Homo sapiens: one gene and its partners. The protein of the gene in region 4 interacts with the protein of the main gene of each other region in a biochemical or structural test. Each region holds a gene or a part of one and is shown on either strand. Other genes may lie near its edges. The genes, in order: HSPB1, MAPKAP1, SKP2 and AKT1.

Region 1 (6,708 bases), on a different chromosome or scaffold from region 4:
CGTGACCTTGCAATCATGACCTTTTTTTTTTTTCTTTTAAAGATGGGGTCTCACTCTTTCTCTCTGGGCTTTTGGTTGTTTTGAGACAGGATCTTGTTCTGTTGCCCAGGCTGGAGTGCAATGGCACGATGTTAGCTCACTGTACCCTTCACAACTCCTGGGCTCAAGCGATCCTCCTGCCTCAGCCTCCTGAGTAGCTGGGACTACAGGCGTGCAGTACCACCCTGCCTAATTTTTATTTTTTAGAGACAGTCTTACTATGTTGTCCAGGCTGGTCTAGAACTCTTGGCTTCAAGCACTCCTCCTGCTTCAACCCCCCAAAGTGCTGGGATTGTAGGTATGAGCCACTGCGCCCGGCCCTAAGACCTCTGTCTTTATGGATGTGAGTCAGCCTGTGTCCAGCAACCTACACCAGTGTACCCACATGGCCCAGCACGGGCCTGAGCAAAGATGACTCCTGAAAGCCAGCAAATGGCAGGTGCCTGAGGCTTCCTTCCACAAACACCAGGGCCTGGGCCAGTGACAGGTGGTTGCTTTGAACTTTATTTGAGAAAAACAGAAGATAAATGTATCAAAAGAACACACAGGTGGCGGGGGAGGCACAGCCAGTGGCGGCAGCAGGGGTGGGCATCCGGGCTAAGGCTTTACTTGGCGGCAGTCTCATCGGATTTTGCAGCTTCTGGGCCCCCAAGCTGGGCCCGCGACTCGAAGGTGACTGGGATGGTGATCTCGTTGGACTGCGTGGCTAGCTTGGGCATGGGGGCCTCCACGGTCAGTGTGCCCTCAGGGGACAGGGAGGAGGAAACTTGGGTGGGGTCCACACCGGGGGGCAGCCTGGACGTGCAGAGAGGAAAGGCAAGCGTTACATTACACACCGGGTGGGTCCCTGTGCCCTCTTCCCTGACCCCACCCCCACGCCACCCACCCACCCCGACCTGGCGCCAGGACTCACGTGTATTTCCGCGTGAAGCACCGGGAGATGTAGCCATGCTCGTCCTGCCGCTCCTCGTGCTTGCCTTTGGGGGGAAGAGGGAAATCAGACTGCGGGGGAGGGGACTGCCTTTCGGCCCCGCTAGGCCAGAGGCCCCACCTCCTGCTTGGAAGCAGCCAGGACTGCAGGCTGGTAGGGATTAACAGAGGGGGTTGGGGATGGGGGCGTGCCCGCCGGTCTGGGCTCTCAGAAACTTCCGGAAAGTTCTTCGATTCAGAGTTTTGGGAGGAACGGAGCAGGGCGCGGAGCTGGGGAGTGAGCAGTACGCAGGCGCACTTGGAGCCGCGCACACGCCCACTCAGCGGCTAGAAACTGGCACCGCGCCAGGGAACTCCCCGCTTATCTGGGGATGGGGCTGTGGGTGGGAAGGGGACTCTGTAGAAAAGCGCATTTTCTCTCTTCATCGATGATCTTTAAAAAAATTTTTGTTTGCTTTTTTTTTGTAATGGCGCGGGGTCGGGGCGGGGGGGCGCGTCTCGCTATGTTGCCCAGGCTAGTCTTGAACTCCTGGCCTCAAGCGATCCTCCCGTCTCGGCCTCCCAAAGCGCTGGGATTACAGAGCAGAAAGCGCCCTTAGAAGCGACCCGCACTCCCAATTCCTGAGCAAGGGAATCAGGAGTCCTGTTTTTCCCGGTGCTGGGCCAACGTTTAACTCCCCAGGCCCCCGGGACCCCCGTTTCAACCGCACGCCCCCGGCCCTGCCCGCCCTGCTAGCCTCCTCCTCTCCCCTGCAGGAGCAGGGGGGCTCACCGGTGATCTCCACCACGCCATCCTTGGTCTTGACCGTCAGCTCGTCCGGGGCGAAGTGGTTGACATCCAGGGACACGCGCCAGCGGTCCGCAGTGTGCCGGATCTCCGAGACCCCGCTGCTGAGTTGCCGGCTGAGCGCGCGGCTGTAGGCGGGCGCGGCCACTGCGGGGCTCTCGATGGCGGCGGGGGGCAGGGGGCGCACGTAGCCTGGCCAGCTGCTGCCGCCTAACCACTGCGACCACTCCTCCGGCAGCCGGGGCAGCCCGAAGGCCTGGTCGAAGAGGCGGCTATGCGGGTACCAGTCGCGGAAGGGGTCCCAGCTGGGGCCCCGCAGGAGCGAGAAGGGGACGCGGCGCTCGGTCATGCTGGCTGACTCTGCTCTGGACGTCTGCTCAGAAAAGTGCGGGGCGCTGGGCTCGGCTGCGCTTTTATGCTCCTCCAGTCGGGTATTTTTAGCAGGCGGTGTTTGAGGTCTCTATTAATGGCAATGACCCGTTTGAGGGCCGCCCCTCCCCATGCACTCCTCCCCCAGCGTTCAGGGGCCGTGGGCGGGGCGAAGAGGGTTCAGCCCTCATCTGGAACCTTCTCTCGTTAAGGAAAGCAAATGAATTCGAGAGCGCGACGCTGGAGCCGTGCCACGGCAGGGCACTCGCCGGCCCTGGTGCTTAAGCGTTGCTGGCTGTGGCCCGTGGCCAGGGCCGTCCTTCTGTTAAGGAGGACAGAGCCAGACAGGTTGGGTTGGGGCATACAACTGAGAAGTGGCAGAGGCAGGATTGGAACCACACGCGTGTGAGATAGAATGTGATAAAAGGAGTCTGGTGCTTGAGCCCAGGAGTTGAGGCTGCAGTGAGCTATGATCTCACCACTGCACTCCAGCCTAGGCAACAGATCAAAGTCTTGTCTCTCAAAAAAATTTTAAAAAGGGGCTGGGTGCATGGCTCATGCCTGTAATCTCAGCACTTTGGGAGGCCAAGGCAGAAGGGTCCCTTGAGGCTAGGAGTTTGAGACCAGTCTGGGCAACATAGTGAGACCCTACTTCTACCAAAAAATATTTAAAAATTAGCTGGGCATGGTGGTGCATGCCTGTGGCCCCAGCTACTCCAGAGGCTGAAGCAGGAGGATCCTTTGAACCCCGGTGAGTAGAGGCTGTGGTGAGCTGGATTGCACCACTGCACTTCAGCCTGGGCTACAGAGCAAAACCCTGTCTCAAAATAAGTAAATGAATAAATACAAATACAAAAATAAAGCAGTCTGGGCTGGGCGTGGTGGCTCACGCCTGTAATCCCAGCACTTTGGGAGACCGAGGTGGGAGGATCACCAGAGGTCAGGAGTTTGAGACCAGCCTGGCCAACATGGTGAAACCCCATCTCTACTAAAAATACAAAAATTAGCTGGGTGTGGTGGCGGGCGCCTGTAATCGCAGCTGCTGGGGAGGCTGAGGCAGGAGAATTGCTTGAACCCAGAAGGCAGAGGTTGCAGTGAGCCGAGATCTCACCACTGTACTCCAGCCTGGGTGACAGAGTGAGACTCCATCTCAAAAAAAAAAAAAGAAAAAAGAAAAAAGCAATCTAGTAATCTGGTGTGGTTGTTAGGCGTGTGGACTTTGAAGCCAGACTGCCTGAATTCACATCTTTGTTCCATCACTAAGCAGATGAACTTGTGCAAGTTAGATTCTTTGTGCCTCAGTTTCCCCATCTGGAAAATAGAGATGATAATGATGGTAACAGTCATGCATTGCATAAAGATGTGTAAGTCAGCAAGGGACAGCAAATATGAAGGTGGTCCCATAAAATTATATTACTGGCTGGGTGCAGTGGCTGACATCTGTAATCTTAGCACTTTGGGAGGCTGATGTGGGAGGATTACTTGAAGCCAGAAGGCTGGAACAAGCCTGGGCAACACAGTGAGACCCCATCTCTACTAAAATTCAGAACAAATTAGCCAGGCATGGTGGCGTGGACCTGTAGTCCCAGATACTCAGGAGGCTGAGGTGGGAGGAGCACTTGAGCCAAGGAGGTCGAGGCTGCAGTGAGCCTGATGGTGCCACTGCACTCCAGTCCGCATGACAGAACAAGACCCTGTCTCAAAACAAACAAACAAAAACAATTACCGTGTTTTTACTGTACATCTTCTATGTTTTATTTATTTATTTATTTATTTATTTTGAGATGGAGTCTCCCTCTGTCGCCCAGGCTGGAGTGCAGTGGCCTGATCTAGGCTCACTCCAACCTCTACCTCCCAGGTTCAAGTGATTCTTCTGCCTCAGCCTCCTGAGTAGCTGGGACTACAGGCAAGTGCCGCGACACTGGCTAATTTTTGTATTTTTAGTACAGATGGGGTTTCACCATGTTCGCCAGGCTGGTCTTGAACTCCTGACCTCAAGTAATCCACCCGCCTGGGCCTCCCAAAGTGCTAGGATTACAGGCGTGAGCCACCGCGCCTGGCCATCTTCTATCTTTAGAAACACTAATACTTACCCTCATGTTGCAGCTGCCTTCAATATTTGGTGCAGTCATATGCTGTAGAGGTTTGTAGCCTAGGAGCAGTAGGCTAGACCATATGGCTTAGGTGTGTAGTAGGCTAGACCATCTAGGTTTGTGTAAGTCCACTCTGAGATGTTCCCACAATGATGAAATTGCCTAACAAGGAATTTGTTGAATGTGTCTGTTATTAAGTGACTCATGACTGTAATGGGTTGGCCTGAGGATTTGGTGACCTAATGCAGGTGATGACTTTGGCCCGGAGCCTGGTACATCATAATTATTGTTACCTGCCTGGGATTGAAGAGAGGGAAAAGGAAGGAGAATACATGGGGTTTGGCCATTTTCCCCCTTCCCCTAACAGCGCAGCTGGCCCAGATCAGAACCTCCATGGCACAGTGCTGAGAGGGGCCAGGAGGAAGATTACTGTCACATCTCCTACTATATGTATCTTTCCTTAAGAAGCACTGGTTGGCCGGGCGTGGTGGCTCCCACCTGTAATCCCAGCACTTTGAGAGTCTGAGGCAGACTTATTGCCTGGGTTCAGGAGTTCAAGACCAGCCTGGCCAACATGCCGAAACCCCGTGTCTGCCAAAAATACAAAAAATTAGCCAGGTGTGATGGGTGCCTGTAATCCCGGCTACTGGGGAAGCTGAGGCACGAGGATCATTCCAGGAGGCAGAGGTTGCGGGGAGCTGAGATCGCGCCACTGCACTCCAGCCTCGGTGACAGAACGAGACTCTGTCTCAAACAAAAAAGAAAAAACAAAAAAGAAAAAGAAACACTGGCCAGGAACCTCAAATGCCGCAAACTTGAATTAGTCTGGACTTCCTGTGTCATTCTGGGCAAATCCCCTCCTTTCTCTAGGCCTCAGTTTCCCTTTCTGCAGATTTTGATGCCCACATCACAGAGGGAGAGGGGAGCTCCAAGTAGTAGAGTCTGCACAGAAGTGCTTAGAGCCTGGAGCTTGCCCCTTGACCCTACCTCATCCATCTAAACACCAATGGGATCCTGGCTCCTATCTCCCAGCTTGGAGGGAGGGTGCTGCCCTAGGCTCCTGCCACAACCCTGACATTCCCTCTTTCCTGTCTTTGTAGGCATGGCCATTCCAGCCTTCCTTCTCCCCTGACTTAGGTCCCTGTTTTAGTTGTTGTTGTTTTTTTTTTTTTTGTCTTTTTTTTTTTTTTTTTTTTGAGCCAGAGTCTCACTCTATCACTCAGGCTGGAGTGCAGTGGCGCAATCTCAGCTCACTGCAACCTCCGCCTCCTGGGTTCAAGCGATCCTCCTGCCTCAGACTCCCAAGTGGCTGGGATTACAGGCATGTGCCACCATACCCGGCTAATTTCTGTATTTTTAGTAGAAACGGGGTTTCGCCATGTTGGTCTCAAACTCCTGACCTCAAGTGAGCCGCCTGCCTTGGCCTCCCAAAGTGCTGGGATTACAGGCATGAGCCACCACACCCGGCTAATTTTTGTATTTTTAGTAGAAACAGGGTTTCGCCATGTTGGTCTCAAACTCCTGACCTCAAGTCAGCCACCTGTCTCGGCCTCCCAAAGTGCTGGGATTACAGGTGTGAGCCACCGCACCCGGCCCTGTTATCCCTGGTTTTTAGACAAGGAAACTGCTGTGCACAGAGATTAAATGGCTTTCTGCTGTCTCCGGTAAAGTGCTCTCAGAGCCAACCTCCTGCCTCTCTAGTACCCAGGGCCTCCCACTTCTTCTGTCCCACTGTACTTGCTGTCCCTATCCTGGGACTGAGGCTCCACTCCTCCTACTTCTATGGGGAGCCAAGGCCACTGAAGTCTTGCCCTGCCCAGGCCCAGAATCGGGGCAGACTCCAGGCCACTCACCTTGATGAGCTGGGGAAGCAGCAAGTCCTCATGCCTTCTCTGAGCCTCAGTTTCCTTTTTGAGAGAGAGCTCATAAATGCCTTTCTCTCTCTCCTTTTTTTTTTTTTTTTTTGTTGAGACAGAGTCTCGCTGTGTTGCCCAGGCTGGAGTGCAGTGGAGTGATCATAGCTCATTGCAGTCTTGACCTCCTGGGCTCAAGTGATTCTTCTGCTTCAGCCTCCTGAGTCACTGGGACTACAGATGTGTGCCACCACACTTGGCTAATTTTTAAATTTTTTGTAGAGACAGGTGTCGCACCATGTTGCCCAGACTAGTCTTGAACTCCTGGCCCCAAGAGATCTTTCTGCCTAGGCCTCCCAAAGCACTGGGATCACAGGCGTGAGCCACTGCGCCCGACCTAGATGCCTTTCTTTCTTTCTTTTTTTTTTTGAGACGGAGTCTCACTCTGTCACCCAGGCTGGAGTGCAGTGGTGCGATCTTGGCTCACTGCAAGCTCCGCCTCCCGGGTTCACGCCATTCTCCTGCCTCAGCCTCCAGAGTAGCTGGGACTACAGGCGCCCACCACCACGCCCGGCTAATTTTTTGTATTGTTTTTTTTTTTTTTTTAGTAGAGACAGGGTTTCACTGTGTTAGTCAG
Region 2 (7,025 bases), on a different chromosome or scaffold from region 4:
TGCCCCTCCTGGAAAGGCATATGAATCCTAGCCCCACTCCACTCTACTGAAAACTCAGTGATTTAAAGCCTCTTGCTTTAAAAAAGGACTTCTGGTTCAAAAGACTGCTATGATCATGTGTTAACATTCATGTAGAAAAAGTTCTAGTCATATTAATAATCAATAAAAATGCAAGTAAAAACTATCGAAATGCCACTGTGTATATCTTTTAGAGTAGAAAAAAAAACTTCTAATACCTTGTAATGGTAAAACTATAAAAATGATTTTAGGAATTCTGTTGGTAACATTGTAAATTAGGACATCTTTCAGAGGGCTATTGTCAATAAAAAGTGAGTCTAAAGATGTTTTTACTCTGACCAATAATCCTACTTACAAGGCATGATCCTAAGGAAGTTGTTCAACAGAATAAAAGGTATATAGATAATGACCATCATCATCAAATTACTTATTAAAACCACACAAGGAAGCAATCTAAATATTCTGTGATCGGCTTCCACTACAACCCATACACTTTTCTTTTATACTGCTTATCACATTTTAATTATTTGACAACTGTCTCACTACTAGATAGTAAGCTCCATGAGGGTAGTGCTGTCTCTGCCTAGATCTCTGGCACATAAATACAGACTGTAGGAATTAAGAACAAATACTGAAACGTTTATAATTTATTATTTTTAGATGGAGTCTCACTTTGTCGCCCAGGCTGGAGTGCAATGGCGCGATCTCAGCTAACTGCTACCTCCGCCTCCCGGGTTCCAGCGATTCTCCTGCCTCAGACTCCCGAGTAGCTGGGATTACAGGTGCCCACCACTGCATCCGGTTAATTTTTGTATTTTTAGTAGAGACGGGGTTTCACCATGTTGGCCAAGCTGGTTTCGAACTCTTGACCCTCCTCGGCCTCCCAAATCCTGGCCTGCCTCGGTCTCCCAAAGTGCTGGGATTACAGGCGTGAGCCACTGCGCCTGACCTAATTTAATGTCAAGTAAAAATAACACAAAAATATGTGTGCTACAAGTGAAACTGAGTAACATATACACACGATTATTATACAAGATTAAAAATAGTTAAGATGGAGGCATCATTGGCCAACTTTTCAATTATTTTAAATATCCTTTAAAGTTATTTTAGTACCTCTGAAATGAAAAAGCAGGAAAAAATTTGCTGTTATTTACACCAAACTTGACCTTGTAGTAGGGATGAAACGGCCACCATGAAAGCCTGAGGGCCCACTCCCCAGCTTACCCCCAGGTACTCAGTTATTCTTTCTTTGCTCAAGGGTAGAAAGAGCCAAAATACTCATATATCATATGTAGCATAACCCTATTTTCTGTAACAATCTCAAACAAAGGCAGTATGTTGAGAGAGACAGGGAAATGTCTTCTAAAGCAATCCCTTTTGAGCAGTGAATTTGCTGGTTACTAACAGCAGGGGGTGCCAAAGGGATCGCTATTGTTCCCAGGAGACAGCCATGAGAAGGACTGCTGAGGCCTAGGTTGAAAAAAAGCTTAGGTTTGAGAGTAAAATCCAAATGCAGCAGGTTTTCCCTTAACAACTGGGACATGTGGATAAAACTCAGGAGCTCATAAACTTGAATGGATAAAAACTACATTTTAATTTTCACTAACTTCTAATATTTTGCATTTCCTTGATTTATAAGTGTAGGCAAACAATCACAGCAGAATCACAGTGCCAGTGACTCTGTCATGAACAGAAGTCATAGCTAACACTACAGCACATTACAGCTGTTGCAGATTTCTCAAATACCATTTATGCTCATCACCGCTTTGAAACAACAGGCTTCAGGAGTTACTGTTAGGTATACAGCTGGATATTGTTTAATCTACTAGTAAAGCCACACATATTACTATATCATGAATTTGTTCAATAATCTGATAACTTTAAATAACAGAATACTTTTATATTCCAGTGGATTTTATTTTATGCATTTACACACGCTTTTCTGAGAAAGGCACAAAAAAAAAGCTGAAGACATGTGCTCAGTCTCAAGGCAGGCAACTGACAGGGAAGGTCAAATTTGGTCTGAGAGAAAATTATTTTAAGTCACAAGAGAGAAGTGGCCACAGTGCACATTTTCAGTTAGTGTGTATTCCTCGCAGAGAAGGTGCAAACCTAGAAGTTTTGCTTCACAGGCTCCCAGTGCACCAGTGTTTCCAGAGGCCTGGCTCTGGACATGCCGTTCAGAGATCTGCTTCACACAATGTGCCACTGCAAAGCAGTCTGCGTAGCCTAGGTGCAGAGGCATGAAATACAATGCGAATGTCGTCCTCAGCATCTCTCTGGGAGTCATCGTTATTACCAGTGGACTCTCCAGATGCCAAATATCATTTATTTGATGAACAAAACCAAAATCAGATCCAAAATGCTAGAAGGTTGGGATGAGATACCGAGAGAAGTAATAGAGTCAGTACTCACATTCGAACAAAGAGTGACTCTTTGGATGTCAGACCAGGAGATGAGTACTTTTCAACCAGGGCCAAAGTACTGAAGCCAAACTTATGAATGGGCTCATTGGAATCCAGCGGGGGGAAATCGGTGTCCACCTCCCCATCATCCTCAGCAATATGCAGGCAGTAGGCACTGACATTGTCACTGAAAGGAAAACCAAAAAGGCGAGTGAATACCAAGGTAGGGAAGGGACAAGAAGACCAGAGGGTATGGTGCACAGCAAGCAAATTGAGGAGACTGCTTTTCTTTACCCCAAGCCTGGTGATACAGTAAAAAATCCCAAATCCTACTTCATTTGATAGAGAGAATACACATGGCAATGCAAAGGGGAGAAAAACAGTGTGAAATGAAGGTCTTTATACTACTCTATTCTTGCAACATTCACTGAGCCCTATTGCAGCTACGACAAAGAACCTAACCTCTTAGATCAAAGGTGAGATTTAGTATCAGCCCTAAAAGCAGCTTACAGCATAGTAGGGAGGAAAAGTAATAAGCATTACACTAGCTACAATACAAATGTAAAAAATATATATATAAAACAGATACAAACAAAACTGTAAAGGGGGGAAGATTATCTGGCCTCGGGGAAGGCAGGGGTCAGAGGCCTTTGATTTATGGTTAGGATTAAGAAAATATCTGGACAGGCATGGTGGCTCATGCCTGTAATCCCAGCACTTTGGGAGGCTGAGGCAGGCAGATCGCTTGATCCCAGGAGTTCAAGACTAGCTAGGCAACATGGCAAAACCCCATCTCTGCTAAAATACAAAAATTAGCCAGACATGGTGGTATGCGCCTGTAGTTCCAGCTACTCAGGAGGCTGAGGTGAGAGGATCACTTGAGCCCGTGAGGTCGAGGCTGCAGTGAGCTATGATGGTGTTACTTCACTCCAGCCTGGGCAACAGAGTTAAGACCCTGTCTCAAAAAAATAAAATTAAAATTAAAAAAGAAAATATTTGTGCTCTAGATCAGGAGAAATACTCAAGGTAACCAAGACAATCCATACAGTTCTCCCTTCTCTAAAGAGTATCTAAGTCAGTTGGTAGAATCTGACTTCAAACACCATGGATCCTTAGCAGAGTAAAAGCAAATGACTGGATTAGTCCTGACACAGATACCTGGTCCTCTTGACTACTTCTGCACACTTCCCACTCCCTAGAATGTCCAGACAGTACTCCCAGATTGCAGTCTTGCCCAGTTTAGAATCAACACATACCCTCTTTGGGGGAAGTAAAAAGTTGATCTGTTCAAAGAGGATGGGAAACTATACCAACATACAGACAGTGTAAGAGTGCAATCAATTCAATTGCTCCAAACCGCAAACCTGCGAGCTTCAGAATTATGCTAGCTTCAGAAGCAGGAACCCAATAGCTCACAAGGCAGTAGAATTCTAAATTCTGCAGCTTAAGTTTGGAGTTTTAATTACATGATTGATGCTTAAATTAATTAATTGCAAAGTGTATGCTAATTGTTTAATTGGTTGGTTGATCTATATAGATCATTTTTTGAATTAAATGAGTTGATTTACCAAGTTTATTGACTGGATGTGACAATGAATTATTTCACTGACTACCTGACTTGCAATTTTCCCAATTAATTCACAAATCTTTAGCTGCAACTCTGCTTATTGCAAGAGAGGGAGCCTACTTCAGGCGATCTATACTCAGTGAGTCTGTCATGACTAAGAGATATTTATTATAAAAAACAAGTAATAAGGACAAATTAAAATTAATGGAAACTGTAAATTTGCTAAATGGATTGATAACAAGAAAGTAATCTAGCTATGTTTGTCACTTTACATTTCAGGTATTTGTAATGCTGTTAAGATATTTAAAATTCATCTTTGAATGGCATGGGAAACTTTTGGATCTCTGCAGCCGGGTACTAACTTAAAAACAGAACAATTAGAGAGGCAAAAGAAAGCACTTTGGATGAGGAAAATGTCATGGTATACTGGCTAAGAGAGCTCTGTGGTCAGAACGAGTTCAAATTTCAGCTCCATGGCTCATGGCTATGTGATTTCAGAGAATAAGCTTCACCTCGAGTTTCAGTTTCCACTTCTATAAAAAGGGTATAATCGTCCCTCAGAGATTGTAAAGATTAGATCAGATAATATATGTAGTGTCTGGCATGTAACAGAAGTAAAAAATAAATGGGAAGGTAACTATAATAAGAAAGTCATATGGAAACTAACTTATAGTTGCACCAATCCTTAAACACAAATTGTGGATGCATATTAAGCAACAATGCATCTGAGCAGCATGTTCTATGTACACACAACTGTAATGGGAGTCAACATGTCCACTGTGTTCCAACCTTGGAACCTTGGGTCACTGAGCCCCCAGGGTTTTATGAACAGGGCAGACATGGATGGAACAAGCAACAGACAGCACAGATTATTTATTGCCATGTAAATCAACCTGAGGAATGTTTGATTCTCCAGCATCACAGAGGTTCAGGGGCAAATAATAAGCCTATTGATCAAAGCAGAAAAGTCCAACAATGATATCAGAAGAATTCTGCTTTGATTGTTAAGGGACATCCCCAAATCCTCTCAAAACAAATTCAATAAATATCACAGGCTAAGATTTGAGATGCAAAAGGTTCACTGCCAAGTGCTATTATTCTCCCCAGTTCTTAAATATGAAGTGTGAAATCATTCATTCAAAACACATTTGTAAAGTGCCCCCCTGGGCTGTGGCCTGTCCTGAGCATCAGGAACAGAGGAAGGAAAAGAAGACTGATTCCTGCCATATTATACAAGATGAATAGAAGCCTCTTCTGGGTCATCAGTAAAGTCTAGCAGTAAATAGTGCTCCAACTCCTCTGACCCCTTAATTGAAAATCTGAGGAGATAATGACTAAAATTCTATATTCTACACATGGACATACTGGTTCCTTTGGTGCTTTTATAAAGGAATCATTAGTAAAAGAAGCTACTGTGATATTTTGACTTCTAAAACTGCTTCAGGACTCCAAATTAGTACTAGTACAATACCAGCAGTATCATTAGCTACATTTATTGAGTACTATAAGCCAGACACTCTGCAAAGCGGCTTAGATATATAAGCTCACTGAAACTTCACATCAACTTTGTAAATGAATCATTTATATTTCTATTTTACAAATTAGATAACTGAGCCTCAATAGGATTAGGTAGCTTGCTCAAGATTAAACAGCATGTAAGTGACAGGGCTGAGATTCAAATCCAGGCAGCCAAGAGCTGTCCCTCTTGACCCCCACCCATTCCTCTGCCAAAGCCACAGTGTGTCAAGACTTCCTGAGGCACTTGAGAACCCAATCACCTATGGAAATATGACACACTTTGATGAGAAGAAGGAAACCATGACATATTACTTATAAAAAGTTAGATTTAGTTCAACCTCCTTGCTTTTACAGATGGGAAATGGAGGCAGAGAAAAGAGGGATAACATGCTCATGATCACCCAATTAAACAGAGGCAAAGCTGGTCTTGAAAACTCTGGTGTCCCCACTTCTTGTCCATTATTCTTTAAACAAATAAAAAACTGGTGGACTTTGAAATGGGGAGAGAAAAGAAAGGGGGCAGCTCTGGTCCCTGCCTCAGGAAACCCCCCGATACAGACATCTCAGAGTTTACAACACAATGGAAACAGGGGCACTTCCCATGACACAGCTTGGTGGAAAGAACAGGGATTTTGCAGACACAACTGGTTTTAATGCTAACTCAAATTCTTAGACCAAATCTCTTTGAGCTCCATTTTCTTATCGGAAAAACAGCTTTCCTTGATTTCTCTAGGAGAATAGCTTGGATCTCCGAAATTCAAGCAATTCTCCTTTGTGGTCTTACAAAATTTGGTCAATATTTCTGTATATCACTAATCATATTGCTTTTTCCTATTTCTGCATCTGTATTCTAAAGAGCAAGGATTCTTCTATTATCTCTCCATACTTACTAAAGAGTAAAATGACTGGCATTTAGAAGGTACTTAACAAACATTTGTTGAATAAATGAAGATATGAATGTGTAGACTCAATCACTCTATGAAGAAAGCAAAGGGTATTATTATTATTATTATTATTATTATTTTTGAGATGGAGTCTTGCTCTTGTCACCCAGGCTAGAGTGCAATGGCACGATCTCTGCTCACTGAAACCTCTGCCTCCCAGTTTCAAGCGATTCTCCTGCCTCAGCCTCCCAAGTGGGATTATAGGTGCCTGCCACCACACCTGGCTAATTTTTGTATTTTTAGTAGAGACAGGGTTTCGCCATGTTGGCCAGGCTGGTCTCGAACTCCTGACCTCGTGATCCACCCGCCTTGGCCTCCCAAAGTGCTGGGATTATAGGCGTGAGCCACCATGCCCAACCAGCAAAGGGTATTATTAGTGAGGTATGTGTTAATGAGAAGAGGGAAAGTAATAACCTTCTTTTTGTGTTCTTGCTTTTCACAGTGATATCTGTTAACCAAATAGGGCTTTCTAGGCAATGCACATGTGTCAAAGATTGTAATTCAAGACTAGAGGAGAAGGCAGCACAGGCAAAGGTGAGGATGAAAGGGGAATTTTTATAGTCCATCAAGATA
Region 3 (7,221 bases), on a different chromosome or scaffold from region 4:
AGCAACCAACCAATCAACTAAACAACCAATCTATCAACCCTTCTGCAAAGGAAACCAGATGGGAGAATTTATGAATATACTTAAATTACCTTGGGTCTGCAAGACTTCATCTTTAAATGTTTAATCTGTTTCTTCTTCGCCATCATCCCCCACCTGATTTCAATTTAGACTCTGATCACCTCTTCCACAGATGATTTCAACAGCCTCCTAAATTCTGTTGACTTTAATGTGGGAATATATCCGGAATCTGACCACCCTCACCCCCAACAAGACTTCAAGCTTTGGCCAGGTGTGGTGGCTCATGCCTGTAATCCCAGCACTTTGGGAGGCCAAGGCTGGAGGATCGCCTGAGTCCAGGAGTTTGAGACCAGCCTGGGCAAGATGGTGAGAACGCCCCCGCAACCTCCATCTCTACAAAAAATAAAAAAATTGCTGGGCGTGGTGGTGCATGCCTGTAGTCTCAGTTACTTAGGAGGCTGAGGCAGGAGAATCGTTCGAATCCAGGTGAAGACAGTGAGCCAAGAGCAGGTCACTGCATTCCAGCCTGGGCAACAGAGCAAGACTCCGTCTTGAAAATATGAAATTTAAAAAAGACCCTAAGTTTCTACCCTTGATGCCCCTGCAGCTGAGTCTCAACACATCAGTGTGTCATTTTTAGAAGGTTAAATCAGGTCCCATCACAACTCTGCTCAACATTACCTCCAGCCTGATCTCCCCCGACTCTCCCTTTCGCTCATTCCACTCTTAGAATATGGCTTCCCTGTTCCTGGAACAAATACGTCACATTTATGCACCAGGGTCTTTGCAGTGGCTGTTCCTTCTGCTTGGAGCTCTTTTCTCCAAGATATTTGCATGGCACACTCCTTGCCTCCTTTATGTCTTTGCTTAAAGGTCACTGTCCAATTGAGGCTTTCTCTCAATACCTGGTTTAAAAGTGCACTCTATCTTCCCACCCCAAGACCTGCATTCCCTCTTGGCTTGTTCTATTTTTGTTTTTAGCCATAGCTCTTATCACCTTCTAACATACTATATAAAAATAGTTATTGTGTTTATTGTATTCTCTCACTAGAATGGATGCTCCCTGAGAGCAGAAATGTTTGTTGTGCCCACTCCTCTATCTCCAGCACCTGGAACACGGCCTAGCACATGGTATGTGCTCAGCAAATATTTGCTGTATTACTGTTTTAAATAGCTTACTAGTAAGAAAAACTGATAACCCCAGGTCAATGCCCTGTTTATCCTATGGCTTTTGCATACTCCAGGGTTCTGGTTCACTCTGGGAGGCACTCGTTCGCCTGCTTGAGGAACTAGGGGATGGGGAGCTATTAAGGAGGGAAGATACAGTAAGTTCTACATTTCAGTCAATCCATTCTAGTTCGGGGGATAGATCTGGGGAGAAGAAGGTTGGAATTATGAATCCACTCCAATAGTTCAGGCAAGAGACGACGAGAACTTGAGAAATAGTTACCAGAGAAGAGGGAAAGATGCGATGAATGACTGGATGTTGGGGGGCGGTGGGAAGCTGACTGACTCTCAGGTTTTCGGGTTGGGTGATTAAACAGATAGTGTCAGCAGTAATGGAGACAGAACATACCAGGAGAAGCCAATATGGGGGTGGGAGTGGGCCTGGGGAGATGTCTCCCCCACTTAGGTGAACGTTCACTTCGCAGTCCACTGATAAATAACTAAAGTGATTAAGGCAAAAAGATCACTCAGGGGTACAAAGCAAAAGGAATCCTACAAGAAGACCACTGTTTATGTTTCTGTTAAACGGTGAAACTGAGCTGGCCTTGAGGCAGGCAGATTCCCTTCTAAGGAAAAAGGCAGGAATGTCTTCTCATGGGTTAAAATTTTCAAGGTGATTATGCACCAGAACATACATATATATATATATATATATATATATATATCTACCAAGATTCCTGCATACTTGACGACTTGCCCTATTTTGTTGAAAAATAGCTTCAGAATTAGGCAATCTTAAAAGGAACCCATGCTAAAGATCTCTGAACAAAGGTTTCCCAACAACATAGCTAAATCCACCCTTTGCATAACTGACATTTTTACCCTCATGTCCTTACCTGGAAAGTTCTCTCGATTTAGCTTAGGCCTGCGGACAATCACAAAGTCTTTGTCACTCCCTTTGCTCTTCAGCCGTTTCCGTGGGGGGCTCTCCGGGTGGCCCAGGTTTGAGAGCAGTTCCTGGGGGATGTTCTCACTGTCGGGCTCCTCTTTCTCCAGGGCGGAGACCCCCATGCCTGACAGCAGTTCAGAAGTCTTGCTGGAATCCCATCCCCACGTGAAGCTGGTGGCAACGTTGCTACTCAGGTCTGGAATCTCCTGGAGGTGCTTCCTGCAGAAGTGCACAATACCCCCGGTTCCTTTCGAAAACACACCCATAAATAATTTCAAGGCAATTAAAGAAGCTGCAGTTTATGCATTGTAGGAAACCTTCACAGCAGCTAACAGAATCGCATTTTTTATGTGCCTGCGGCGAGTTACCAAGAAAACGAAGAAATGAAAAGAACAAATCGAGAAGGCTTTTTGACTTACGATCCTGCAGAAGGCCTCAAGAATTTCTCCCAGTGGAGGGAACAGACAAGGAGAGAGACAGGGCAATCATACACTGATTGAAAACGGTGGCAGAAAAGCCCAATTAGGGAAGCCAAATAAAACCACACGCTGATCCCCGCACTAAGGCATCCATCCATTCACACTTTCCCCAAGAAGGGGCTAAGCAACCATTCACTTAACAGCATTACTAACAATATTAGCCAGTAGCGATATTCGCGGCCTAAAAGAATTATTAAGAGGGTCCATTTCATGCTCTTCCCCTTTTTGCAATCCGTTTACCTGTGCATAGCGTCCGCAGGCCCGGGAGTTTAAAATACGTGCATTAACTGCAGAGCTGCTCGCCTCCCAGATTCCCGCTTTGGCGCGCGGCGGCTCCGAGCGTGCTGCTCGGGCCCCCAGCAGCCAGACCCGCTAAGCCTAGCAACGTTCCATCCCCACTGCGCGCGCAAGGCTCTACAGCCCGCTCTGCTTCGCGGCCGCACTGAGGCCCAAGGCCTGCTGGGAATTGTAGTTTCCGTCCCGCTTCGTAGTCCGACGGGCTCGCCCTTACTTCCTTCCCTTGCAGCTTTACCCGCCTTCGAGATACCCACAACCCCCCGCGGGAGCGGGACTGGTCGGCCCACGGGGTAGGCGGGGAGGCGGAAGCGGGCGGCGCTACGGCTGACTGGGAAATGTCAGCCGCTGGACTGTAGACGGATTTTCCTTTCTCGGGAGCCCGCAGGCCTTCTGGTGATCGCCAGCGCTGTCGTCTCTGAGCGTGGATCCCAGAACCTGGACAGCTGTGGCGGCCGCCGTTTCCCGGTCCCGTCCAGACGCTGTCTGGCGAGATCGGACGGTGAGCCTAAGGCGGAACGCGTGAGGCGCTTTTGAGTCTGGGGTCCGGGGCCGAGAGCAGGCGGAAAGAGAGGGGACCCGGCAGACCCCGAGTGGCCGCCGCTGCGGGGCCCAAGTCCTTGGCTGCTGAGTGGTGACAGTAGCCCAGCCCGCCGGCCAGGTGAGAGGCTGCGAACTGCTGGCGTCGCACCTGTTCGTCCTTTTGCCAGGAAGCTTCTTCCTCCGTCGGGGAGAAGGCGGCCCTAAGAATTGGGTCTGTGGACGGGATCCTTCCTTTATCTGTAAAATAACGCACAACAGCTAAACACGCCGTTGGAACGAGAGACAATGGTTTAATTTTAGGGGAGCCGGAGACCCCAGCGGGTCCTGTGTGGTGGGAAGGCTGCGCATGCCCTTGCAGCCTTGACAGGTCTCATAAATAGCAACATGGGAATAAATGAAAGGACTGTATTTTGCAACGAGCTTTACCCGTGCACGCAGGGGGCCTCCAGCAAAGCCATTTGGTTGCTTGCTGTCGCTCAGCTGGCTACGTGTGTTTGCGTCGCCGCCTAAAAGCGAGCTGCTTTCAGCCTATCTCTGCTGAGAAGAGTTTGGGGGCAGTAAGAGTAGGGAGCGTGACATATTCCAGGTACAATGACCATGCGAAATCCATTGGGCAAACTATACTACAACTGTGACCCCGGGAAAACAGTGGAAGAGGGAAGGGGGATGAATTCTAAGCCTCATAAAAATGAAGATTTATAAAGTTCATAAGGAAGCATAACAGCTTCATCGCATATTAGAATATTCAGTGATGCTGTATGACACACCCTCTGGTTTCCTTGAAAAAATGATTCGCTCTGTAGTGAAATTAAACCTCCCTTGTGCAGGTATATGCTTGTTTCAAGCTTGGTCCTTAGCTTGAAAAGTAACTGCCTCTTGAGGAAGGAATTCATGAACCTTTAGCTCGTTCTTGAAAGATGAGATTGGTGTAAAGAAGGGATCTGTTCACAACTTGGTTTTGATTGGAACTAGGTGCAGAATCCTAGGCTAAGCCGTTCATCAAACTAATGTTATATGGAAAGCATTTTAAAATGCAATATCCTGATGTTTTACAGAAAGTGACCTTTATGTTACTTTGGCTAAGGAGAAAGCATTTGCCTTTGTTTGAAGCTACGTCCTTTCCCTGAAGATTGCAACTCATAGGAGAAAATATTTTTGACACAAAAAATTATAGTTTCCTTCAGGAAAGGGAACAAAACAGAGAGAGCCTGTAAGCTAATGGAGGAGAAAGAATAAACAAAAATATTTAAGATGCCATAATGAGAATAAACAGTTTTGAGATGTAAAATAATTGGGAGAGCCCACTTCAGATATAGATCTCATAGATAGGAAGGTTTAATCGATGAGATGATTCTAAATTTAAAGATGAGAAATATCTTTGTTCAGTCTTGGTTTTACTAGGAGTTACCTGGGAACTAGAATACTTGCAACATCTGAATTAGTGAACACAAGATCCTCTCTAGGACTTCAGGGAGAGCCTGTCAGTTTTGAAATTCAGTTTGATAGTTTGCCCCGGTAACAGACATACTTCATCTTCCTAATATGGGAATAATTTTTTTTTGCCTTCCTTCTAATCATGACTATTGCCTTAATATAATAAATGCAAGTTTAAATTGGTACATTAGATTCTTTTTAACGTAAGGAATTGTGTCCATTGAAGACGAGATTAGTAGGTACATAGAGGTTGCTATCTGGTCATAAAGAACTGCATTGTGATTGCTACTGATGTATCTTATTTTTTCTGATTAATTTTATTTTTATTTTTTGAGAAGAAATTTCACTCTTATTGCCCAGGCTGGAGTGCAATGGCGCAATCTCGGCTCACCATAACCTCCACCTCCCATGTTCAAGCAATTCCCCTGCCTCAGCCTTCCTGAGTAGCTGGGATTACAGGCATGCGCCACCACGCCTGGCTAATTTTGTATTTTTAGTGGAGACGGGGTTTCTGCATGTTGGTCAGGCTGGTCTCGAACTCCCGACCTCAGATGATCCACCCACCTCAGCCTCCTAAAGTGCTGAGATTACAGGCGTGAGCCTCCGTGCCCAGCCGATTCTTACATCTCTTTAAAAGGAAGACGGTCCACCCTTCTTTGTTTCTCCATCCTGCTGTCTAGATGATGATAGGATTCCTGGAGTTCCAGCATCTGTCCTGGAACATAAGGATTAAAGCCACCTGCTAAGGATGTGGACTATAGAAGGGGCCTGGGCCTCTGATAATCTGCTAACTTGCCATAACCACCTATCTCAAGACTTACACGAGAAATAAATTCTGCATTGTATAAGTCTGTACTATATTGGACTTTTCTGTTATGTGTAGCCAAACTAATCTTGAATAATGTATTTCCAGAACTGATAGTCTCTGTGGTGGTGGCAGCTACCTGTTTACATAACCCTTATCACCCCCTAATGTATTTTTTTTAATTGCCTGTTTCTTCCCACTAGACTTTTTAAGGGCAGGGACTTTGCTTGGATTTTTCTATCTCCAGCCCCTTGAACAGAGCTCACCATATAGTAGGCGTTCAGTAAATATTTGCTAAATGAATGAATGGTGCTTGGAACTAAGTAGATCTTTAATTCATTGTAATTTAATGCTCTAAGATAGGCAGCTTGGGGCAAGAACAAACGGATTCTAATTTACTCTATGTTTTCCACTTTTCCCATGTAGAGTACAGTCATATATTACCCTTAAATCAAGTAATAGTAGTATAATCTGTAATGTAAAAAGTTTGCGTTAAATTCTTTATTAAACATGACTAAGCATTCTGTCCTGATATATCTAAAAGAAATGGGAGAAAGTTTCTAATTTGTTCCCTGTGAAGACTGAACAAAATAAATCATTAAGCAATTTAAATTGCATTAAGAAACTATGTCTAGATTAGAGAAGAGACATGTAATTATGATCCAGGCTCTGTAGTAAAGATGCCTCTATTTGAATCCCAGCTTTACCATTCACCAGCTCTGTTAACTTGGACAAGTTACTTAACCTCTCTGCACTGTTTTTTTTCTGTTAAGCAAGGAAACGAACAGCCCTTTCTTACTAGGTTGTGAGGTCTAATTTGATAAAGCTTGGCAGGTACTAGTATTAATACAATGCTTAAAATTTAGTGAACACATTCTAAATGTTAGCTATTCGTTTTTTGAAATTATTTTATTATTAGGAAGGACTTTACAGATTATTCTCTATCAAAATGTCTTGCAATTTCTATGTATGAAATCTTTAAGAATTCAGTAAAATTTTAGTTCTTTTTTCTTATATGCTTACATGATTGCTACCTCTTCTCTTCATGCCTTGCAAAAGGTAAAGCAGGACAGTATGCCACTGTCCTCAGGGGCTTGTCACATTTTGGAATTCAGGTTACCTGGTTGGTTCGCCAACTCAGCTCTTAGGTACCTTTAAAAAATATTATGATGGTTTTTTTTTTTTTTTCATTTTTCGAGTGGGAGTAATAGTCTCTTGCAGTAGTCTGTGTCCTAAACTGAACTCTCTCATACCTGAAATCTTTAAATATGTGAATAACGATTATGTTTGGAAGATTTAAATTTAATTATTGGTGGAAAATTGTTGACTTAATCATTCACTTCTAATTCTGGTTCTTTTGATTTTTCATAATTAGGATTTTGAGTTGTCTCCTGGTTTTTATTATTTTGCACATATCTGAGTAAAAATACAGATATGTGAAGTTAGATAAAATTTCCAATTGGAACCTAATGATTCATCAGACTCAGATATTTAAGTTAACAGTATTTGAGAATGATGAATCATTAGGTTCC
Region 4 (7,025 bases):
ACCCTGGACCAGAACCTGGGGGTCCAGCAAGTTCAAGGGAGTCGGAGGACCGCAGGCCTCAAAGAAAGGAGGGCAGAGCTACTTGGAGGGGAGGGGCCGATGCAGCACATGGGGATGGAACCTAAGGCCAGCCCCTGGTGGGCACCTCGCTCTGCACCACAGACCTGCCTGAGACAGATCCCAGAGGCCTGCAGTTACCCAGCCCTGCCACATACAGATGGCCCACAACTGGGCCCTAATTAGCCACTCAGTCACACCTGCATGCCCAACCCGTGTCTCTGGCTGCCACAGGCAGAGCTGGGCTCCAGGACAGGGACACAGAAAATGGGGACCATGCTGGGAGGCCCACGTGTCCCCAGCCTCCCACCTAGCAGGGCGCCTGGGTCTCCATGCCAGGGTTCCCGTCTGACATGGGTAGGGTCGCACCTGCCCCCGCTACAGGTAAGGAATAAAGCCACAGCAGGGCGGAGCAGGGAGCGTCACATGTCTCTCATCTCTGTGGGATGCTCCGGCCAAGGTCCCCCGCTGGCCTTTCTGCACCTGCCCCTCCATGGGCAAGGAGGCAGCCTCACAGAGGGGAAGCAAAGGCTCTGCCATGGGGTCTGGAGGCTGAGAGCCTGTGCAGGGAGAGGCACGAGCTCTTCCTCGAGTGATGGAGGCTTCAGAGCTGGAGACCCCAATGGACTCTTGCCCCCTCACCCAAGGGGTTTCCCAAGGAGAGGCCCTGATGGGCTCTATCTAACCCCCTTGGAGGAGGGGCCCCCGGGGCAGCTGTCCACCCTGAGACTGGGCTCTGCTGCCACTTGTCCGGACCCTCCAGCTTCCAGAGCATGGGCACCAGGGAACTGCTCCAGGGTCAGCCAGCCTTGGGACTCGGCCCAGAGACCCCCGCCCAGCCAGCCTCGGCCTCAGGACTCTGCCCAGAAACCCCTGCCCAGCCGGCCTCGGCCTCGGGACTCAGCCCAGAGACCCCGGCCCAGCCAGCCTCGGCCTCGGGACTCGGACCAGAGACCCCCGCCCAGCCAGCCTCAGGACTCAGCTCGGAGACCCCTGCCCAGCCAGCCTCGGCCTCGGGACTTGGACCAGAGACCCCTGCCCAGCCAGCCTCGGCCTTAGGACTCAGCCTGGAGACTCCCACCCAGCCAGCCTCAGCTTTGGGACTCAGCCCGGAGACCCCTGCCCAGCCAGCCTCGGGACTCGGCCCAGAGACCCCCACCCAGCCAGTGCTTGTTGCTTGCCAGCCCAGGACTTGGAGGCTCCAGGGGACCCCCATCGTGGGGCCTGGTGGGCAAAGAGGGCTCCAGCCAACCCCCCAAATCTGAATCCCGAGAGGCCAAGGGGATACTTACGCGCCACAGAGAAGTTGTTGAGGGGAGCCTCACGTTGGTCCACATCCTGCGGCCGCTCCTTGTAGCCAATGAAGGTGCCATCATTCTTGAGGAGGAAGTAGCGTGGCCGCCAGGTCTTGATGTACTCCCCTACAGACGTGCGGGTGGTGAGAGCCACGCACACTCTACCCGTCAGACCCTCGCCAGGCAGCCAGGCAGGAACTGGGTGTGCCAGGACAGATGTGCCTGGGATGCCTGAGTCCCAGGGGGCAGGCGCGGTACGGGAGCTGTTTCTTAGGGCCAGCGACAGAAACGGCCCTGGGTCAACGGGAAGGCAGACTCGCCCCACCACAGCGCCCCTCTCAGAAGAGCCACCCCGAGCTGTGTCTGAAAACGGGCTGGGCCAGCTGGACGCAGGGGATGGAGTACCATGGACAGGAGGCTGGGAAGAGGTCTGGGCCAGTCTGCACAGCCTTCCTGGAGGAGGCAGCCCTAAACCAGCCAGTCCCCAGCAGGCACCAGCAGCAGCTCGGGCCCCAGCTATGGCCACAGGGGCTGCGGGGCTGACAGCATTCCCCAATCAACCAGGGTCGGCCAGGTGGCGACAGCAGGTGACAGTGGCTTGTGTGGGCTGCCCAGCATGGCCGCCCCCCCCGCCCCGCCGCCACCCACCAGGAGGATGGAGCATGGCGTCCACAGTTAGAGGTCAGCACCACTCAGACTGAGGGCCGGGCTCGCGGGACAGGACTGCCCACTGCCGTGGGATCGCACTCCCTGTCTAGGGGCCTGGAGCACCGTCTTGGGGACTGCCGATGAAGCCAGACACGGAGGTGGCCCAGCCAGCTGGGCAGGGGCCCCAGGGCACAGAGGGTGCCAAGTCCCCAGGCTGAGACCCACACTCAGGCCCTGCCGCCGTCGGCCCTGCCGCGTCCCACCCGTGGGTCATTCAGGTACACGGGAACATTCTCCCTCAAGTTTTGCAGCATCAGCCGTACGCAGGCGTTCACACTTCAGAATCAGAGCAGCTGTCCTCGGTGATAGCCCAGCAAGTACCATTTTTCATACTGACACTCGGAAAAAAATGTTCCACTTACATTTTGCCAAGCAAGGAGTTTGAACAACAGGGAACTTACTAATTAGGCAACTGCTTCATCTGAGGGGTCACTGGGCAGGGGTTAGGGAGGGGGCCAGGGTAAGGGGTTGGGGTCCCTGAGCTCTGGGGCCTGGGTTTTCATGCCACACTGAGCCCCAGACAGGGACACCTGGAGGGATGTGGGGGACAAGCAATTGTCCCATCACCAGACCACCCACCACCCAGTCCTGCTGGGTCTTCGTGGTGAGCCCAGACGCGTCCAGCCCTCCCTGGTGCACAGGGAAGTCCCAGCAGGGCAGCAGCCCCAGGGGAGCTCAGAGGACATGGGTCATGGGCATCCCAGCAGGCATTCTACTTTCCAGGGAGCCACGGGGGAGTTCTTTAATAGAGGTGAGCCACCAAGGCTCGACACATGGCCACCCCCCGGCCAGGTGACCTCTCCCTCCTACCCCGGCCCCAGCTGCCCAATGCCCTTCCCACCAGCACCACGGGGCGTGGTCTCCACAAGACCAGCCCTCTCTCTGCCCAAGCCAGGGCTGCTGGGGGGATGCTGGTGGAGGGTGGGGACACCCCACCCAGCAGGGCCTGAGTGTGGGAAGAGGCTGTTGTCAGGTCTGGGGTGGACCAGGAAGGGGACAGCCACAGCCCACTCATAGCTGCCTGACACCTCTGGAGGACGGCCAACACCCAGTTGCAGGGAGGATGATCCAGGGCCCAGAATCTGCCCCTGTGCCCAAGAGCACTCATCAGGAGACCCCACCCACTCCGCAAGCCCTCCATGCCCCTGCCAGTGGGCTGCCGAGCAGGCGTGGTCCTGCCACCCTTGGGTGCCGGCTCCTGTCCCTGACCTGGGATCTCGCACACCCCCGAGTGTGCACATACACGCACATACGTGCCACGCAGCTCCACCCCGCCTCCCACGTCCCCTCCCCCAGCCACAGGGCCCCTGCAGGTGCAGCGGGCAGGCAGGGGCGCTCAGTGAGAGCAGAGCAGGCTCAGGGGGCTGCATGCAGCCCACCCCACCCGTCCCCCATCCTGGGCCACCCCGCTGCTCACGCCCACCCGCCTGCATGCCAGTCTGGAGCTGTCGGCCCCTGATGGAGTGCCTCCCATCCTGCCAGCTGCCACTCCCCGGGACGCTAACTGAGCGGGAAGACTGATGAGCGCCCAGGCCCGGCACCCCTGAAACCCATCTTATCCACCAACTGCTGCCAGCCCCCACCGTGCCCAGCATGGCCCCGTGCTGCCCCCGAGCACGCAGCTCCCGTGCCCAACCCCAGCCTTGCCCCTGACCCTGCTGCCACAAGCCCAGCCCCAGGTTCTGTGAGCTGCATCTGGGGGGTTCTGGGAGCTGGATCTGGGGGTGCGGGAGGGGCAGGCCCAGGGGCGGCGCTTACCAGGCGTGGGGGGTGGGAGAGGACAGGTGCCCAGCCCCGAGCATTCCTGGGGAGTCCTGGGATGGGCAGAGGCCCAAATGGGCCCTGGGCTTTCAGTGCCTTCCCCTCGCCTGGCCCCACAGACCCAGGGAACAGACGGCGATCAGGGCCTACCCCAGGAGACGGGTGTGAGTGAAGGGGCCTCACGTGGCCTTTGTCTTCGGCATCCCAGCCCAGCACACAGACCCCTCCAGGGGAGGAGCAGGATCCCCAGGGACCCGGGGTAAGGGGTCCAGAGACACACAGTTCTCTTTCTTCATCTCTCGCCTAGAGGGTCAGCTAGAGGATCACTTGGGGGGGTGCCAGCTGCAGCCAGGGCCGTGGCGCGCATCTTAACGAGTTCAGCCCAGACAGGATGCTGGGTGGGCGGCCAGCCCCGACAGCAGATGCGGCAGGGCCCCACTACTCCCTGATCCAGGACTGGGGTGACACAGGACGGGGCAGGTGGAGGAGACAGCCACCCGGGGCCCAGCATCACTGTCCTCATGGCCACAGGACGCCTGCAGGCCTGCACCTGCCTACTCCGGGTCCCTCAGGAGGGTGGGAGCACAGACACATCAGCCAGGGCTGCCCTCCCAGACCCCTCACACAAAGAGACCAACCCACATGGAGTCTTCTCCTTCACTATCCTGAGGGTCCCCAGGGGAACTGGAACCTGTCATCCAGGACTTAACTTGAGTTCCCCACCCTGTTGTGGTCCTCAGATGCCCCCCACTCGAGGCAGGAGTACAGTCCACTTGAAGAGTGGCCTCTCAATCCCTGACACCCCAGGAAAAGTGCCCTGCATTGCTGGGGGAACTGGAACCAGGCAGTAGGGACCTCGTCCTCCACACCGACCATGGGAAGCACCCGCCACAGAGGGGCCTTCCATCTCCCCACCATCAGCCAGCTGGCATCCCCCCACCCCACCCCAGTCACCCCCCCAACACCACCCCACCCACCTGCCTGCACAGCTGAGGGCACCAAACACAGAGTGGGCACAGACCCCCAGGTTGCCACGCCAGGCCCTCACTCCAGACGGGTACAGGCAGGCAACAAATGGGGAGGCCAGGGCACGCCCCACCCCACACACAGCCAGAGTCATCTCCTGCCAGCAGCCACTCCCAAGGGCAATGGAGACCGCCCAGCATTCAGGCCCAGGGGGCCTCTTCAGTCCCTAACTCTCACACCCCCATGCTGGGCTCAAGAACCCCCAAGTCCCCACCCGCTGCACATGTTTCAGACCCGGGACCTGGAGCAGGCAGGGTCCCAGTGCAACCCCGGCCTGGGCCTCAGGGTCTGGCAGGGAAGACGGCTAGGTGCCCCTTCAGAAATGTCAGCAAGTCCGGATGGGGGACCCCACACCACTGCCAGAAGACCTGAGTGGGGGGCCGAGTGGAGGACGGCACTGGGGACTGGTCCCACCTTCCTGCCCCATGGCTGGTCCCCTGGGCAAGGGGGAAGCAGCAGCTCCGGTCCCACCCTCCTGCCCCATGGCCGGTTCCCTCGGCAGCGGGGAAGCAGCAGTTCCAGTCTCACCCTCCTGCTGGCCCCCTGGGCAGTGGGAGGCAGCAGCTCCGGTCCCACCCTTCAGGGTTCTCTCAAGGCCAGCCCTGGGCCAGGTGGGAGCCACCCTGACCCTTAACCCTGTGACACTGCACCTATCCAAGACCAGGTCCTGTGAAGCCACAAGGGCAGGGGCTCCTGTGCCTGATGAAACCCGTAACCCTCCCCACCAGCCAGCACATCCATGGCCCAGGGCTCCAGGCATGGGAGGTGGCTGCCCTCGGTGGGGGGTAGGCAGTTGGCCAGACTCCTGTCCCTGCCCGGGGGGACAGCGGAGACCAGGCTCCCTCGACTCCTCCTGCACCTCCTGGGCCCCACACAACCCCAGCCCTGGTCCCTCTGGCATCCCGATGTCCCGGGTGGCCCTCCGGCAGGAGTGACCTTCCATCCCCAACCCCGCTCATCCCCAGGAAGGGGCTGGAGCACCCCCAGGGAAAGAGGGTTCCTTCCCAGAAGTCCTCCTGGACCAAATACCGGGGTTCTGAGAGGAAGCTGCTCCTGCCTGGCCTCCCCCAACCCACCCCACCACCACCACGGGGACCACATGGACAGTCACAGGCAGCCCACCCTCTCCACGCCTCACACACGTGTCCCAGGCCACACTGTGGGTCAGGCCCCCCAAAGCGGCACCCACTTAGACATGGGGGCCAGGACCCACGCGCCATGGGCAGGACTGGGTGGGCCCCTGAGGGCCAGCTGGTGGCCCTCCACGTCCCGGGACTGACCACCTCCTGAGCCACCAGGTGTGTCAGCCCCCCTAGGCCACCACGTCCTCAGCTCCCTGAACATTCTCTCAAAGTCCCCAGTTCTCAGGAAACTGCTGGATAAACACTTCGCAGAGACGGTGGTGGCAGCGGCTGGCAGGGTGCCAGGCGGCACCGAGCTGCTTCTCCACAGCAAAGTGAGCCCAGCAGGCCCTGGGAGCGGGCGCCAGCTGACAGCGGCCACCGTGGTCCCCACTGCCGACACATCCATCGCCCCGACAGCTGCCGGGGGCCCATTTACCTTCTCCAGCACATTGAGCAGACGGCTCCGCTGACGGCAGCCCATGAGGGGCCCGCAACCCACCCTCCCCGCCTGCCAGGAGACCGCACAGCTCACCGCGAAGGGCCCGGCCTGCCAGGCCTCTGCCCGGGCCCGGGAGTACACACCCCTTTACCAGCAGCCCTCGAACCCTGTAAACAACCAGGCTGGGGTGGGGGCAGGGGAGGGGCCACACAACGGAGGCCAGCTGACCCCACTTGGCTGGAGCCCCCAGGTCTGTGGGTGAAATACATCCACTGCTCCTCCCGGCACAAGCCCTTCTGAGGGGGCACAAGTGGCCAGTCTGCACAAGGAGAGGTGTCTGTTCCCGCCAGGCAGAGGACTGGCGCTCCACCTGCCTGGGCCTCGCCCAGCCCAGGACCCATTCTGCTCTCCCAGAAAGCCCACCAGGCAGGCAGGGCGGGCAGGGCTCATCATGCCCATCAGCTCCCTGGGAAAACGGAGACTTAGGGGAGGTGACCCTCAGAGGCAGATCATGACCAGAGAGACCCCAGGTCCTGCCGCCAAGGCAGGGGTTGTAACTTGACACAAACTGCAAATTCTTCACCTCCTTCCGCTCCACCATGGAGCAGGCCTCAG

What was found.
Region 1: the proteins of AKT1 (region 4) and HSPB1 form a complex in vitro, tested with the Homo sapiens proteins (3 studies listed by BioGRID, with this or other methods).
Region 2: of the proteins of AKT1 (region 4) and MAPKAP1, one has a biochemical effect on the other in vitro, tested with the Homo sapiens proteins (3 studies listed by BioGRID, with this or other methods).
Region 3: of the proteins of AKT1 (region 4) and SKP2, one has a biochemical effect on the other in vitro, tested with the Homo sapiens proteins (4 studies listed by BioGRID, with this or other methods).

The regions. Positions count from the first base shown.
Region 1 is NC_000007.14:76,298,110-76,304,817, reverse strand, and holds HSPB1 (heat shock protein beta-1), read right to left. Parts: upstream 2,146-6,708; 5' UTR 2,106-2,145; coding exon 1,742-2,105; intron 1,017-1,741; coding exon 953-1,016; intron 835-952; coding exon 645-834; 3' UTR 526-644; downstream 1-525. UniProt on the Homo sapiens protein: Small heat shock protein which functions as a molecular chaperone probably maintaining denatured proteins in a folding-competent state. Plays a role in stress resistance and actin organization.
Region 2 is NC_000009.12:125,557,200-125,564,224, forward strand, and holds part of MAPKAP1 (target of rapamycin complex 2 subunit MAPKAP1), read right to left. Parts: exon of another isoform or gene 6,536-7,025; intron 2,611-6,535; coding exon 2,434-2,610; intron 1-2,433. UniProt on the Homo sapiens protein: Component of the mechanistic target of rapamycin complex 2 (mTORC2), which transduces signals from growth factors to pathways involved in proliferation, cytoskeletal organization, lipogenesis and anabolic output.
Region 3 is NC_000005.10:36,147,903-36,155,123, reverse strand, and holds the start of SKP2 (S-phase kinase-associated protein 2), read right to left. Parts: upstream 3,014-7,221; 5' UTR 2,862-3,013; coding exon 2,854-2,861; intron 2,354-2,853; coding exon 2,082-2,353; intron 1-2,081. UniProt on the Homo sapiens protein: Substrate recognition component of a SCF (SKP1-CUL1-F-box protein) E3 ubiquitin-protein ligase complex which mediates the ubiquitination and subsequent proteasomal degradation of target proteins involved in cell cycle progression, signal transduction and transcription.
Region 4 is NC_000014.9:104,778,739-104,785,763, forward strand, and holds part of AKT1 (RAC-alpha serine/threonine-protein kinase), read right to left. Parts: intron 1,479-7,025; coding exon 1,350-1,478; intron 1-1,349. UniProt on the Homo sapiens protein: AKT1 is one of 3 closely related serine/threonine-protein kinases (AKT1, AKT2 and AKT3) called the AKT kinase, and which regulate many processes including metabolism, proliferation, cell survival, growth and angiogenesis.